2 separate regions of the Homo sapiens genome follow, and region 2 is linked to region 1. A link means that fine-mapping ties the variant in region 1 to the expression of a gene that starts in the linked region. Tissue or cell type: stomach. Region 1 holds a variant in brackets; the other region holds the start of a gene. All regions are shown on one strand. Distances are from middle to middle.

Region 1 (8,105 bases):
GGAGTCACCTCATTTGAACAAAAGATGCTCCTACCACCCGGGAAATTCCAAGGGTTAGGAGATCTGTGTCAGGAGCCAGGGTCAGAGACCAAATATCAGAACAAAAGATACACCTTGCACACCTAACATTCAGGAAGTTACAAGAGTTTTAGGAGCTCTGTGCCGGGAACTAGGGACGCAGACCAGATGGCTATTTCTTACCTCACAATACCACTCTGGGTCATTGAGTTGAAAATAGATTTTATTCAAAAGAACTGCTTGCAGTTGCCCTTATTCACTAGTAGCAAACCTGGATTCAATTGTAGATGGTCATTAACTCTAACTTTAGTTCAGTCTTACTTATCTGTGTGAAGTCACAGATTCAAACGCTGGGTTGGTAAAGTAAAAGCAGAATGGGCGGTGGAGGCTGCAGAAGGCTGAGGGCCCCTGCTGTCGCCCGTGGATCACTGCATTTGCAGGGAAGCTGAGCCCACGTTCTGATCTCCACATCTTCAGAGAGATGAGAAGTCTTGGTTATTTGTCACCTTCTGATTTTAACATCTCAGCAGCTAACACGTTTGTTTTAAAATCTTGAGCCAGAAACGTGTATGTGGATGGGATGTGGCTCATCCTGCTGGTTTAAGACCTCTGCATTCACTGTTTTAACTTCCTGTTTGACTAGGCTATGAATAGAAATACTGAGGCAGAAGAGAAATGTGTGGAATGGGAAATAATTTGGGAATTAAGGGTATTTATGTCTGATCTGAAATTAAATAAGAAGGTAGTCTCCCATTATTTTTTAACAATTCCTGAACCCTGTCTCCTCTGTAAGCACATTGGGCCAAGAATTGAATGTCTGTTCTAAACAGCAAGGACCTCACTTGTAAGCCCAAAGCAGGGTGCAGGTCCCGGCTGAAGGCTGGCAGTCATAGACAGGAGCTGCCTGTCAGCAGGACCAGGGGTGTGGGCTGGGTAGAAGCGTTGGGAGACTCCTGGGGTCTGGCTCTCTGGTCACTTGGCCCACATCCTTCTCATAGTTTGTTCTTCTCCCATTTGGCATTTGTCTCTCGGCTTCTCCATAATGGCACTCTTAGGACCTGACACTAAAGGACACTCAGGCCGTTAGAGTAGGGGAGGAAGGAGAAGGAGGAGAGCCCACAGGGGAGGAAGGAGAAGGAGGAGAGCCCACAGGGGAGGAAGGAGAAGGAGGAGAGCCCACAGCACCTTATCTGACACGGGGATTATTGTCAGAATAGTAGCTACTGATGCTGCTTAATTACTTCTTCACTCTCATCTTTTTCTCCCACACCCCAACTCGGTCTTTTTAATGTCCCCCTCGTTGCCCTTCTCTCCCCTTTATTGTTAGTGTTAAACAGCTGCTTTTCAAAGTTCTGTCGTCCCTTTCGTCCTCCCCAAGCCTCTAGAATTAAAGGGTATTCTGCTTATTTGTAAATGTATAAGACTAGATTTATCAGTGTCTAGGCCTCTAGAAGTCTTTTCTACTGTGTACCACTTAACATTCTTACAGTCTGCATTTATCTGAAGTGATGTGGACTGACAGCCCTTTAAAAAAATTATCTATATTTTCACGCCTGTAATCCCAGCAGTTTGGGAGGCCGAGGCAGGCGGATCACAAGGTCAGGAGATCAAGGCCATCCTGGCTAACACGGTGAAACCCCATCTCTACTAAAAATAGAAAAAAAATTAGCCGGGTGTGGTGGCAGGCGCCTGTAGTCCCAGCTACTCGGGAAGCTGAGGCAGGAGAATGGCCTGAACCCAGGAGGCGGAGCTTGCAGGGAGCCAAGATTGCGCCACTGCACTCCAGCCTGGCCAACAAAGCGAGGCTCCGTCTCAAAAAAAAAATTATCTATATTTGAGGTATACAGCGTGATGTTGTAATATACATGTATATACTGAAATCATTACTACAGCCAAGCGCTTAACATATCCCTCACCTCACATGATTACCTAAGTGTGTGTGTGTGCGCGTGTATATGTGCAAGTGCGTGCCTGTGGGTGTGTGTGTGGTAAGAGCACCTAAAATCTCCCTCAGCAGGTTTCCCAAATATAATGCAATATCATTAACTGTAGTCCTCATGCTGTACATGAGATCTCTAGACTTATCCTACATGACTGCAACTTTGTACCTTTGACCTGCATCTCCCTAGTTCCCCGTCTCCCTGCCCCTGGTAACCACCTTTCTACTTTCTGCTTCTATAAGTTTTTTAGATTTTTTTAAAGACCTGTTAAAAGTTCCACATGTAAATAAGATCCATGTGGTATTTTTCTTTGTGTGTGATGTTGAGTGCATTTTCATATACCTCTTGGCCATTTTTTGGTCTTCTTTGGAAAAATGTCAATTTGGGTCCTTTGTCCATTTTTTAATTGAGCTTTTTTTATTTGCTATTGAATTGTGCGAGTTCATTATATGTTTTGAATATTAACAGGTTATCAGATACATGGCTCGCAAATATTTTCTCCCAGCCTATTGCGGGATCTGGCCAGCAGCCCGCAATGCAACGGGGTTCTCTTTGTGTTCCCAGGCGGATCGGCCCGTTGAGAAATAATAGACACACACAAGATAGCGAAAGCTGGGTCCGGGGGGGTCACTGCCTTCTGGTCCTGCAGTGCCAACAATGCACTGGATATACCAGCATTTATTATTAAGTTTAGTGAGGGCGGGGGTAGGTTAGTGAGGGATTTAGGGTCATTTGATTATGAGGTGAGATGGTCACATGGGGATGAAGTAATTCTTTAACATAACATCTGTATGCAGAAGTACAGTATACAGAGATAAGAATTTACAATATAGTGTATGCATCAGTAATTTCTGACAGAGCCTTAAAACAGAAACACAGTCTTTCCATAACCTATGATTAGCAAGATATTAATCAGCAGTAACAGTTGCAGCAAAAGCTGGTTACAAACAATCCGTAGAAACAGGACGTGAAGCTAGACAACCTGTTAGACCAGAAATTCTCAGAAGGGAGTATGCCTTAACCCTAAAGAGGCCCAGAAGAGCCCTGGCAAGATGAGGGCGTTTATAGCCCTATCTTATCCATATGGACGGTGCCCCCATGTGTCTGTTTATAGGCTCTTTACAAGGGTCACTTTCCATTCCCAGAGCTATGAATATCTGCTTTTCTGGGATAGGAATCTTGGTGATGTGAAACCTCCCTGACTGCACATCCATTCATAGGCTCTCTGCAGGGGGAAGCACATCACATGCTGTTGGCTCATTCTGGCAGTCCCACCTGGCACTGTCTTTACACAATCCTGCATGCAATTTTGTATTTACAATAATCAGGAGCATTTCATCTTTTATTCCATAGCAATAGTTTCAGGGGGTCTCCCTACACCAGCCCATAGGCTACCTTTTCATTTTGATTGTTTCCTTTGCTGTTCAGAAGCTTTTTAGTTCCATGTAGTCCCGCCTGTTATTTTTGACTTTGTTCCCTGTGCTTTTGGTGTAATACTCAAAAAAACATTTGCCAAGGCCAGCGCCAAGGAGCTTTTCCCCTGTGTTTCCTTCTAGGAGTTGTGTGGTTTCAGGTCTTCCATTTAGGTCTGTAATCTATTTTAAGTTGATTTTTGTGTGTGGTGTAAGACAAGGTCCAGTTTTATTCTTTTGCATGTAGATACCTGGTTTTCCCAGCACGACTTACTAAAGAGACTGCCCTTTCTCCACTGTGTCATCTCGGTGCCCGTGTCAAAAATTTAAAAGTAATCTGATAGCCCTCTTTAAGTTGCTTCTGATTTGTCTTTTGCACTAAAAGAATCTGTAATTCAAGGCTTAAAATTGACTACACAGCCTTTACTCTTAACATCCATATTATACTCCTATACTATACCCTTTTCTCCATCAAAAAAAAATTGATTTGCCCAGTAGGTAGTTACTGTCAGAAAATTAAGTAATTTCATTTTTATTTTGGTCTTTTTTTTTTTTTTAACTGATGATCTTCCATTTTCACCTCTAGCAACTGGTGATGATGATGACTGGGATGAAGACTGGGATGGGCCCAAATCCTCTTCCTACTTTAAGGATTCAGAGTCAGCTGATGCAGGCGGCGCTCAGCGAGGAAACAGTCGTGCTAGTTCCTCATCCATGAAAATTCCCCTTAACAAGTAAGTTTAAAGGGGAGCCAGGGAACCAGGGCCGTGGTAGAAGTATACATTAATACAAAGTATATACCCTACCAAGAGGCAGCTGGCCTTTTCCCTTTCCAGTGATCTCCTAAGTTTTGGATATGATTCAGTTATTTTTATTTGGATCTTAACTGAGAAGCTTACTTAAAAAAAAAAAAGGATTTTTGATTTACAAGGTTAATAAGTGAAATATTTATTTTATTTAATGATTTCCCAAACTGTTTTCATTACTTCTAGCTTTATCAATTTATGACATATTAAGGTTTCATTGCTAATGTCACAGGAAAGCTAAAAAGAATAATAATAACAACTCTCTTTTAAATGTTTTACTGTTTTGTTAATCACTTGCCATGTGCCAGGCATTGTGCAGAGAGGTTTGTATCATTCGCATGTAGCCCTCATATCCCTTTGTGGTACATAAAACCCCTGTTTTACTGCAGGCAAACTGATGCCCAGAGAGACGCATCGAGTGTTCCAGTCAGGAAGCCAGGCCCTCAGGCGCCAAAGCACGTGTTTCAGCTCCTGTGCCTAAAAACGTGGTCCGGAGCTTTGTGTTAGCTTAGGTTTCTCTTAGATTTAAAACAAAAAAAAAAGTGTTGTGTTTTATTTTTTTGTTTTGAGACAGGCGTCTCGCTCTGTCACCCAGGCTGAAGTGCAGTGGTGCGATCTTGGTTCACTGCAACCCCAACGTCCC[G/A]GGTTCAAGCAATTCTCGTGCCTCAGCCACCTGAGTAGCTGGGATTACAAACATGTGCCACCGCGCCCAGCTAATTTTTGTATTTTTAGTAGAGACGAGGTTTTACCACGTTGGCCAGGCTGGTCTCAAGCTCCTGGTCTCAAGTGATCCGCCCGCCTCTACCTCCCAAAGTGCTGGGATTACAGGCTTGAGCCACCACACCTAGCCAAAAAAAAAAAGTTTTTAACAGTACTTGTAGATACCCTACTTAACAGGAAAGCATGTGGGCACCAGTGACCACTGTAGGATTCTTTGGAGAGACCTAAATAAGGCTGTAGTCTATGCCAGTGTAGCTTGAAGGAGATATATTAGTAATTTATGACTTCCATCAGAATTTTCAAGTACTCCTTCCAGCAGTTATGTTTAGTTTATTTTTTGAAATTACTAATACTTTTTCCCAATATTCCAATTCCATGATTCAAGGCAGATATCAAAGAATGTTAATCTGTGTCTGGAAAAATTAAAAACATAACATTTGACATATATTTAGACATCAAGATCTAGGTCTAGATCTAGTTTAATAAGTCCTACAAGTTCTCCAAAGTATATTTAAATAGCTTCAGTGATTAAATGAGTTCTCTTTTGACTGCACACTTTTGCTGCCTCTTACCCAGTTTCTTCCATTATATATTTTCCTGCTCAATTGCATGCATAATAAAGTGAATAATTCTCTGTCTTGTTAGTCAACTGTGTCTTGTTTCAGAGTCAAATTTGAAGTTTTCAGTCATGGTCAGTAGTGATGTGCATCATTGTCAGCTGTTCTTTAAATGTGAATATAAAGTATATTGAAAATTCATATAAATTAGCCCCATTTTGAAAACGAAGGAAGCAGAGACTGAGAAAAATGAGTGGCCACGTTTTCATGGCTGATGAGTGAGGTTCCAGCTCATGCCTGGGGGTCTCTGACTCTGGTTTTTGGTGCTCTCCTCTGCTCCACACTTGCTCTCTGATTTGCTTATAACCTTAAGGCAAGTTTCGTGACCTGTTGGAACCTCAGTTTCTTCATCTCGAAAGCAAGGAGGTTGGCTTTAAGAATTCTTTCTGCTCTAAAATATCATTCCAGGCTGAAACCACATTAAAGCAGTCCTAACTTGAACCTGTGCCTCTGAGGCATCTCTGTCTCTCTGTAGTGCTGTGAACGATTTAACACCCTGTGTATTTGTATTTAACTAAACTGTATAAATGAGTCACTTAAACTTAAAACAATTATAAAAAATGTTTTTAAGTATTAACACTTTTTCAGCAATTAATCCATTTTATATGACAGCTGTATTCTAGTCATGGAACATAAATCTTATACTAGAAAAAGAGATCTGAAATTAAATATACTTGAGCACTATAAGAATTCACCTTGGGCCAGGTGCAGTGCCTCATGTCTGTAATCCTAGCACTTTGGGAGGCCGAGGCAGGCAGATCACGAGGTCAGGAATTCGAGACCAGCCTGGCCAACATGGTGAAACCTCAATCTGTACCAAAAATATAAAAAAGTAGCTGGGCGTGGTGGCACGCCTGTAATCCTAGCTACTTGGAAGGCTCAGGCAGGAGAATCGCTTGAACCCGGGAGACGGAGGTTGCAGTGAGCCGAGATGGCACCACTGCACTCCAGCTTGGGCGACACAGAGACTCTGTCTCCAAAAAAAAAATAAAAGGCATCTTGATGATGCTGAAATAATTAATACATTGCTGTCCTCAAATTTTTCTGTGGTCCATAACAGTGCCCAAAAATTGAAATGCTTACAAGCTGGTCAAGGAGTTGTCATGATATATAATCCCCACAGAAGCGCACCTGTAGTCCCAGCTACTTGGGAGACTGAGGCAGGATAATCGCTTGAACCAGGAGGTGGAGGTTACAGTGAGCCGAGATCGCGCCACTGTACTCCAGCCTGGCGACAGAGTGAGACTCTGTCTCAAAAAAATAAATAAAATAGAGTAATTAATAAATAAAAGTGTTGCAGGTTAGCCTAATTCATTAAGCATTCAGTATGCTCCCAAAACTCCTCCAGGTCCTGAAAACACAAATGCTTCCTCTAAGTCCCTCTGGCTGCTGTAATAGGTAAATGGATAGCGGCAGTCAGGTGTGATGAATAGAATCACAAAATATGCTCAAAATGCCTAGGAAGACTCTACCTGCGGCTGCAGGGAGTACTTCCAAAGAGAGGATGACTTAGTTGCCAATGACTGAAATGTACTGAGTACATACTAGGTTCTTTACATAAATCTTTAATTCCCTTATCACCTTAGAAGGTAGGTCATTCTGGTCTCATTCTTCCACAAGGAGATTTCAGCCCCTAAGGCTACCTAAGTGTTGGAGTCAGAATTCAAACCCCATGCCATCCAGCTGCAGGACACATCTGGTCTCTTGTGTAAGCTGCGTTTTAAAGGAATGTCTAGAGAAAGGAGACTCAAGGGAAGTCAGCTGAGAATGCAGGAAAAGAAGACACGGGCCCCTGAGAGCATCACACTGGCCTTTGGCTTGGCACATGAATGAAAGTAGAAGCAATGCGACTGGAACTTCGTAGAAATAAGATTCCTTTTCCCATTGTAGATATTTTGCTTCCTTTTCTTCTGTTTACTAAAAGAAAAATTCTAAAACCCAAATTAATCTTGTCTTTTTCAGTAGCCCTTTGGATGGCTATGTTCTAGCTGTCCTCTAATTTCAGAAATGTCCTTTGGATATAGATGTGATTTCTGGAAGTAGTCAAGTTTATTTAAGTTTTTGAGTCTTAAGTGACCTCCCCCCCACCCCCTCCCCATAGCCAAATTTATTGATTACACTTTGGGTCTCTACTAAAGAGACTTGTTTTCCGCTGTCATGAACTGCTTCTGAAGGCAATTCCAAAAGAAACAAGCACATATGCTGATGAGCAGGACAGCCCCTTTGGGACAGTTGTGGCCTCTGGAGAGAGCCTGTTGAAAGGCAACTTTAATTTGGATGTAGAAATGCCAGCATGTGGCTATTGCCCCCTGTGGCCAACTCAGATTGGCGTGCTCACTACTCACTGCCCCAGGGAACTAGGGGGGCGTTTTTTCAGGTCTGCCCTTCACTCTGGGGTGACCGAATGTTTCAGACACAGTCAAGCAAATAGAGTGCCCGTAAACATCACACCTTCTGGAGTCAAACTGTTCTGTTTACCAGATCAAGCTTAATTAAATGCCTAATTGGCCATTGAACAATCTGATTACATTAGGTTTCATTTACCACAGTTTCCAGTTCTAGTGCACCCGAAAGACAGGACAAGGTTAAAAC
Region 2 (8,105 bases), 80 kb after region 1:
ATTTCTTCCTTATTTCTTTGCAAGCTGGCTTTTTTGCCCAGCCCTCTAGTGAAGCTGCCCCCTCAAAGGTCCCCGTTACCTTCTCACCAAACCAAGTTTCTTTTCTGAGTCCTGATTCTTGGATACCTTCCTGAGGTTTTTAAACCAGTCACCTCTCAGGGCTTTTGCATGTGGGAGGCTGTAGCCCCAGATGCCTGATGGCTGTTTCTCTTACCTCCTTCCGGTCTGTTAAAAAATGCCTCCTTTTCTGAGAGGGAGGAGCCCTCAGGAATGGTTTAGCGCCATCCTCTAGACGATGAGTTTTCACTCAGTTCATGTGAGATCCAGAGCTGTCCAGGTCACGCCCTTGGCCCCTCTGCTTTCTCGGGGTACTTCTTGATCGTCTTTTCCTCCTGCCCCTGCCTTCTACCCCTGTCTGTCTCCACTCCCCTTTGATCGCTGCCATACTCATTTCTGGCCCCTCATCTGTAGGCATTTCCCACTGGACGACCTGCCCACCCGGTCTCTGTCTCCAATTAAACTCGCCTCCTCCTCACTCTGGGATGGTATCGCTGCTGTCCCATTCTCAAAATGCCAGGGTCCTGTCTGACTTCCCACTTTCCTTTGTGCAGCTCATATCATACAATCAGGCACCAAATACAGATTTGTATTTCCTTTAAACCTCTCCTGTCTTACTCGGCTCGGGCTCTGATAGGGGTTAGATGTCTGTCCACTCCAAATCTCCTGTTGAAATGTAATCCCCAGTGCTGGAGGTGGGGCCTGGTGGGAGGATTGCATCATGAGGGTGGACCTCTCATGAATGGTTTAGTACCATCTTCTTGATGATAAGTGAGTTCTTGCTCAGTTAGTTCACGGGAGATCTGAGTGTTTGAAAGAGTGCGGCACCTCCCCCCAGCTCTCCTGCTCTAATCTCACCACGTGACATGCTGGTTCCTGGTTGCCTTCCACCATGACTGTAAGCCTCCTGAGGCCTCCCCAGAAGCAGACGCCAGCACCATGCTTCCTGTACAGCCTGTGGAAGCGTGAGCCAATGACATCTATTTTCTTTATAAATACCCAGTCTCAGGTATTCCTTTATAGTAACACAAATAGACTAATAATACAGGCTTCCGCAATAAAATACCACAGGCCAGTGGCTTAAACAATAGAAATTTATTTCTCAGTTCTAGAAGCTAGAAATTCTGAGATCAAGGTGCCAGCTGATGTGGCTCTTGCTGAGGGCCGTCTTCCTGGCCGGCAGATGCTCAGGCCCTTCCCTCTGTGTCTCTTCTTTTTTTTTTTTTTTGTTTTTCCTTCTTTGAGACAGAGTCGTGCTCTATTGCCCAGGCTGGAGTACAGTGGCTCCATCTCTGCTCACTGCAACCTCTGCCTCCCGGGTTCAAGTGATTCTCCTGCCTCAGTCTCCCGAGTAGCTGGGATTACAGGCACACACCACCACATCCAGTGAATTTTTTTGTATTTTTAGTAGAGATGGGGTTTTGCCATGTTGGCCAGGGTGGTCTCAAACTCCTGATCTCAAGTGATTCACCCACCTTGGCTTCCCAAAGTGCTGGGATTACAGGCATGAGCCACCGCGCCTGGCCTGTCTCTTCTTCTAAGGACACTAATCCTATCATTCTTATTGAGAGGGCCCCACTGGCATGACGTCATCTGACCCTAACGAGCTCCTAAAGGTTCCATCTCTAAAAACCATTCCACTGGGGGTCAGGGCTTCAACATATGGATTTGGTAGGGCAACAGGGGGTGGGGATAGGGTGGCTCAAACGTTCAGTGCATGTCTCCCCTACTTCCCCTCTTTGTTTCCTCTGATAACCTGTTGGGGTTCCTGACTCCCTCACCCACACCACGCTGAGCTACATTTCCTGCTGTGGCTTACTCTGGGGCTGGTGGAGTTGGCTTTTGCTTCCTTCCCCATCTCCTCCCCTTCCCAATTCCCTACCCTCCAGGCATTATACATCTCAGAGAGGGGAAGCGCCCAACTCTCCTGCCGCAGATGGGCCCACCCCTTTGCCCAAACGCCGCTGGGGGTTTAGGTGTCTGAGCCAACCTTTTCCTTGAAGGCCTCAAGGTCAGTTGCTCCATCTGCGAAAGGTGCCTGTGCCTGGGTACCCTTGGTCTATCAAGCCAGTGCGCATGTGAGGAAGCTGCTCCCTCTGCCACCCAGGTGGGCTGTCCCACCTGAAACCAGACAGCAGAGGCCCCAAAACCCAGCAGGCTCTTGGCTCACCCAGCCATTTCTCAGAGACGGAGGAACAGCCACTGTAGTTCCTTGAGTCTGAGACGTGCATTTTAACATTGTCTAAATCAGGGCAGAGATGACTATTGGTGGCATGTTCTAGTTTAATTGGAAGTTTTTTTTTTTTTCTCAGTGGTACATAAAATAGTGGTTCATTTTACAGTTGATGGTGACTTGGATTCTATAAGCTGTGAGGCTCAACTGCTGGTCCTGACTGCAGGAAAATTTCTAAAATAGGTATGGCATGCCACTGTGCAGGACTTTAGACTATATGATGCTAGTTAGGAAAGAGGAGAGAGAGATAAATGGAAGACTGGGTCCCCTCCCTAAGGCCTTACCACTCAATTTGCAAAACAGGGCTAAGAGAAAACATAAAAACACTTCTCAAGCAACATATGAGTAGGTGAGAACTGAAGTCTGTAAATCTGGGTGTTATATAAGCACTATTATCTGGGACCTCAGCATTCCAGGAAAGCTTCCTGGAAGAAGTGAGTTTCAGGTCAAAAAGTGGGCCAAAGGCTGATCTGCCTCACTGAATGGGCACACTGTTTTCATGAGGTAGTAATGTTTCCATCTACACAGAAAGAAGCTGCTCGGACAGCTGATGAGCATCATGCCTGGGATATTGAGCACATCATGCTTGACCTGGGCAGAGTTTGTGGGCAAGGAAAGGGGCTAAGGGTCAAGATAATCTCTGCTGGGGTTGTTCAAATTTATTACCCAACCATCACCTGAGAGGTTGTCCCCTGAGGATGGCTTGTCTGGTCATTACTGAATGTCTGCAGGGGCATGGCAGTGTTCTGCTTGGCTCTGGGGGCTCTGCCCTTTCTAGGACAAGTCCCAGAGACAAACAGCTTGGCCCAGTACAGCAGAATGGGGTGAGAGAGGAACTGAGTTCGTTTGCGGGCAGGATGGAAACAGCTGATGGAGGCTTCTCGGGCCATCCTCACGTACCCATCACAAGCGAAGGGAATTAAGCCGCCAAACCACCCCAAAGAGTGACTCCAACTCAGCCCTAAACACCCATACCCACCCCACCTCCCCTGCAGCTCTGACAGGCCAAGCCTGGGCGCTAGAACCCCGCGCCAGAAGGCCGGGCCACACACTCCAGCGTACACGCGCGGACACGTGCCGGTGTCCAGAGCCGGTGGGAGAGGCGCTGTCACCATCTGACAGGAGAGGAAGGTGGAGCGCAGAGAAGTCAGGGTCACGTGGTAAGTGGGGGTCGTGGTCTGGGGATCACGGCTCCAGGTCTCTTCGCGACAACGCACCGTTGACCCCCAACACCTCTCCCTGGCGGGGTCGGTGACCGCAACAGCCTCCGGGATAGAACGCTAGTGAAAGGTAACCTTTCTCCAGCCCGCTCCACGCGCTCCGCACCCGCTAAGCGCCTCCGCGAATTAACTCAGGCCTCCGCGCCGAAGTAGGCGCAGTTATGACCCCGCTTCCCCGCAGGGAGACCGAGGCACGCAGGGTCGAAAGGACTCGTCCAGGGTCGCAGGAGCCGACCACACAGGGAGGCGCAGCGCCCCCGGCGGGAACAGTCAGCGGGTCCAGCCTGGCGGACTCCCGGGCCGGGCTGCCCATATAAGGCTGCGGGCGGCCGGCATCGCAGCCAGGCTCCCGGGGTCGCCCCGCGCGGGGCATCCTCCTCCGCAGCGAGGAATGCGTGGCATCCGGGAGGCTCTTCCGCTCCACGCCCGCCTGCGGGGAGCCTCAGCCCCGGGGCGCGGCCTCGCGCAGCTGCCTGGCCGCTGGGGGGAGCGCGGGGCCGGGCGGGAGGCGGCGGCGCGCCCTCACCTGCCCCAGGCTGGGGAGGCGCGAGTGGGGAGGAGGAGGAAGGGGAGGAGGCCGGGGAGGAGCCTGGCGCGGCGGGAGCGGCGGCGCAAAGTGAAACTCTGGCAAGTTGCGGGCGCGCGGGGAGCTGTCGCGGGCAGCGCGCCCTCGGGAGGACGTGGCCCCGGCCCCCGCCCGCAGTGGGCCCGACCCTCATGGCCCTGAGCAAAGGGCTGCGGCTGCTGGGGCGCCTGGGGGCCGAGGGGGACTGTAGCGTGCTGCTGGAGGCGCGCGGCCGCGACGACTGCCTGCTGTTCGAGGCCGGCACGGTGGCCACGCTGGGTGAGTCCGGGCCGGGGGCAGCGACGCCCGGAGGAGAGGGCGCCCGCATTCGCCCAGCCTCGGGAAGACGGGTACCCCCCCTTCCCGAGGGGATCGGGCGGCGCTGGGACTGCCGGGGCGTAGGGGTCGCGCGCAGAGGGGTGGCTGTTTGAATGAAGTGGGGCTGGGGACTCGAGAGAGCACTCTGGCTGGGCCGGTGGCGCACGGAGGCCGGCCGCCCCTCCACGGGGATCTCCGGCCCGCGCCGCCAGAGGATATGGTTGCTGGATAGCCGGCTGGGGCGCTTTGCGTATTCATGAGGATCCCGGGGTGTTGACTTAGCCGGCCTGACCCTGTGCCTGGCGCCTTTTCTTTTGCACCTGTTGATGAAACCAGTGATTGCCCTTTGGTTTGTGTTGGCGGCTCCACTCCTGGAGGGGATGGGGACAAAAGCCCCAAAACATAGGCTCTGGAGAAACCGCTGATGGCAGCTTTGTCCCACGTAAATACTTGGTCGAGAAGCATCGGTGCTGCAATTTATAGAACTTGTAAACAAATATACCATGACCTTTATGCTGTCTTAGATCCTGCCAAGCCAGCGAATTTCACCTATGGACTTCAGAAGCCTTGAAACTGGCATTGTGCTATGGGCTTTAGTACGTGATCTCACTTAATTCTCACAATTCTACTAAAAAGCTATTATTATCCCCATTTTGCAGATGAGCAAACTGAGGCCTAAAGAGGCTAAGTTGCTTGCCAAGGTGACACCATCCACCTGACTTTTATGTGGCTGTTTCTGTAATGTCATTCAATGCGTGGCTTCCTGGTATCGCTAACCTGGGTCCCTTGTTTTGTGCTAACCATTATAAGGAAAACCTGGGTAGCACCAAAGCACGTGAAACCAGGTCTGATTGTTAGACTTCTAAATGTGGACACCCGAGAGTAAGCTCCCACCACTAGGCGTCCAGCTGTAACAGCTTGCCGGTATTCCTAGCTAAACAAGGTGCAGCCCGGGGTCACTCGTACTTGAGGTGGTCGGCAAATGCAGCAGGCTGCTTTGTAGATGCCTCTAGCCTTCTTTTCACATTTGTATGCATCGACTCCCGTTCGGATGTATGTCTTGGAAGGACTATCTCTCCTATTTCTGATTCCCTAATCATTTCATTAACATGCATTTATCCAGCTTGTTCTCAGTCACTTGATTACTGAAACAATGTCTCCAGTAGTCTCAGCATCAAAAGTAGGCAGTGAATTGTAGATTAAGTTATTTTCAGATTATTCTAATTTGTGCTGTCCTGAAGAGTCTAAGTTTGGTTATTTGGTGTGGCCTTGAAAGAAAACCACAGAAATTTCCATTCCATTTTAGATGTCTACTTCATACCACATTTATCGGAAGCGAAAGAGTAATTTCATGGTACAAAACTACTGTTTCATCAAATAGATTAAGATGTCCTTCAGTTGGATTACGGCAACATTAAGCCAAGTTCATACACATTCAAGAATTCTTTGAAGCAGCTTAGAAAAAAGAGATTTTATTTTTTCAAAAGTGAAGATTTAAAAATGATTAATGACAGTAATGTAGTGCATATTTTCCATTAGGAGCTGAAGTTTGGGCTGAGATTTACATCACGGTGGTGATTACAGTATACCAGATTTTAGAACAGAGAATGTAAGAAAGGAATTGGCTCGTCTTCAACTCATGTGCAGTCCACATTTGTCATTTAACCTAGCATTCATTTTTCAGTAGAAAACTTTAAAAAAAAATTTTTTTTTTTTTTGAAACAGAGGCTTCTTCTGTTGCCTAGGCTGGCATGCAGTGGCACAGTCACAGCCCACTGCAGCCTCAACTTCCCAGGCTCAAGCGATCCTCCTGCCTCAGCCTCCTGAGTAGCTGGGACTATAGGCACATGCCACCATGCCTGGCTAATTTTTTCTCTTTCTTTTCTTTTCTTTAAATGGGGTCTTACTATGTTGCCCATGCTGTTCTCGAACTCCTGGGCTCAGGTGATCTTTCCGCCTTGGTCTCCCAAAGCGTTGGGATTACAGGCATGAACTACTTACTGCGTCTGGCCTGAAAACTTAATTTTTTAAAGTCTGTTTTGTTTAAGTAAAATGAAACTATTTTTAAAAAGCAGCTGTAGCATTTGGTGGCTTTGCTGGTCCAGAGAATGTTTGTAGGAGAGAGCCTTATGTTACTAGAAAGTTGTTTAAAACTTTCAACATATCCTAAATGCATCACTATTGGATAAAATGGCTCTGAACTTGAAATTCCCATCTGTGTTCCAAAGGGCTAGCTAGCTGTTTTACTTTCCTTTCTTGGAGAAAGTGATTATTTTTTTTCTTTTTTTTGAGATGGAGCTTCACTCTTGTTGCCTGGGCTGAGTGAAGTGGTGCGATCTCGGCTGACTGCAACACCGCCACCCCCACCTGGGTTCAAGTGATTCTCCTGCCTCAGCCTCCCCAGTAGCTAGGATTACAGGCACACGCCACCATGCCTGGCTAATTTTTGTATTTTTAGTAGAGACGGGGTTGTGCCATTTTGGCCAGGCTGGTTTCTAACTCCTGACCTTAGGTGATCCACCTGCTTTGGCCTCCCAAAGTGCTAGGATTACAGGCGTGAGCCACCATGCCTGACCCGAGAAGGTGAATTTTTACAAGAAGGCTGCAATCTCTACTTTTGTATGGGACAGGACACTTGTGGCAGCTGGCGTAGCTGGTGGTCTAATCTTGACCTTTCACCCTTTCCTTGAAGTTCCGAGTCGGGGGTAGCTTCCTTTTCTCTTCAGCTGTGGTTTTCCTGTGATGGGTCCCTCCCAGTTAGTAATGAGAGGCTGAGAGACAAGTTGTGGTAACTGCTTCGTGGGTAGTGGTCTTTCCCGGCCCCTGAGTCATTCTAACTTCCATCCTGCTCCGCTGCGGATGCACATAGCTGCTTTCCTAGGGGCGAGAGGAGATGAGGGGACTGGGCCTGATGACCACAGGCGCTGCCCCTTCATAGCACATTTTATTCCTGAAGGATCCTAACTGGAAAAGTACCTCTCGCCGAAGGGGCTGGGTGGTTCCTTATCATTTTCAGGCAAGGCCTGGAGACAGGGGCTTGAACTGGGCTGTGATTTTTAGGAAAAACGGATGGTCCATGATTCGTTGATTGCTGGACTCCTTCCATCTGAACCTGTCTTCACCTGTCTTCACCTGTCCTGCTCTAAAGTGAACTCTTCACACTAGGGCCGTCTGGCCTGCTAGCAGGATTGTTGAAGGAATTATTCCAAATTCCTGCTTCTAAAAGAATTAGGTTGTGAATCTGAATCTGTCTTTTATGTAGATCAGTGGGAGCAAAAATTCCAGAGGCAGAAAAGCCAAATGTATTGGCACTGATTTAAAAGGCTTTTATGAAGTCTCGGGAACCTGACTGGAGGGTAGTTGGCCTTCTCAGCACAGGTGGGAAGCCCCGTAGCCGGTACCAGCATCCCTGGCCAACAATCCACAATTAGCAAACAGATGTTCCCTTATTTGCACATGGGACAAAAACCTACTCCTGTCTCTGTCTCTTGTAAACTTAGGGAAAAGTGCTTATTGTTAATGGATTTTGTGTATTTTCAGAGTAAGCGACAGTGTTCCAAAGTTCAAGGTTCTCCAACAGCCCCCAGGAACGGTGGCCTGAGGGTGTCCCTGTGTTTACAGTGCGGGCTGTGTGTGAGTGAAGTCGTGCCTCCTGCCGCCCAGCCGGGCTTTGCTGTGAACAGGCAGCAGGGAGGGAGGGATGGGGCAGGAG

The links. PIP is the estimated chance that this variant, and not a neighbour inherited with it, causes the effect.
Region 2: SYNJ2 starts here. The variant in region 1 is fine-mapped to the expression of SYNJ2 in stomach (GTEx, PIP 0.92).

The regions. Positions count from the first base shown.
Region 1 is chr6:157,897,942-157,906,046 of GRCh38, forward strand. It overlaps SNX9 (sorting nexin 9), which reads left to right. Exons shown (of 18, transcript NM_016224.5): 6 at 3,957-4,104. Among named protein-coding and RNA genes, the nearest start is that of SNX9-AS1, 9.1 kb to the left of the region's middle. The variant G/A (reference allele first, on the strand shown) is at 4,820.
Region 2 is chr6:157,977,735-157,985,839 of GRCh38, forward strand. It overlaps SYNJ2 (synaptojanin 2), which reads left to right and starts at 4,129. Exons shown (of 27, transcript NM_003898.4): 1 at 4,129-4,354. The coding sequence starts at 4,228. RefSeq lists enhancers at 3,365-3,414, 3,379-3,894, 3,435-3,624, 3,645-3,694, 3,895-4,410 and a silencer at 3,815-4,394.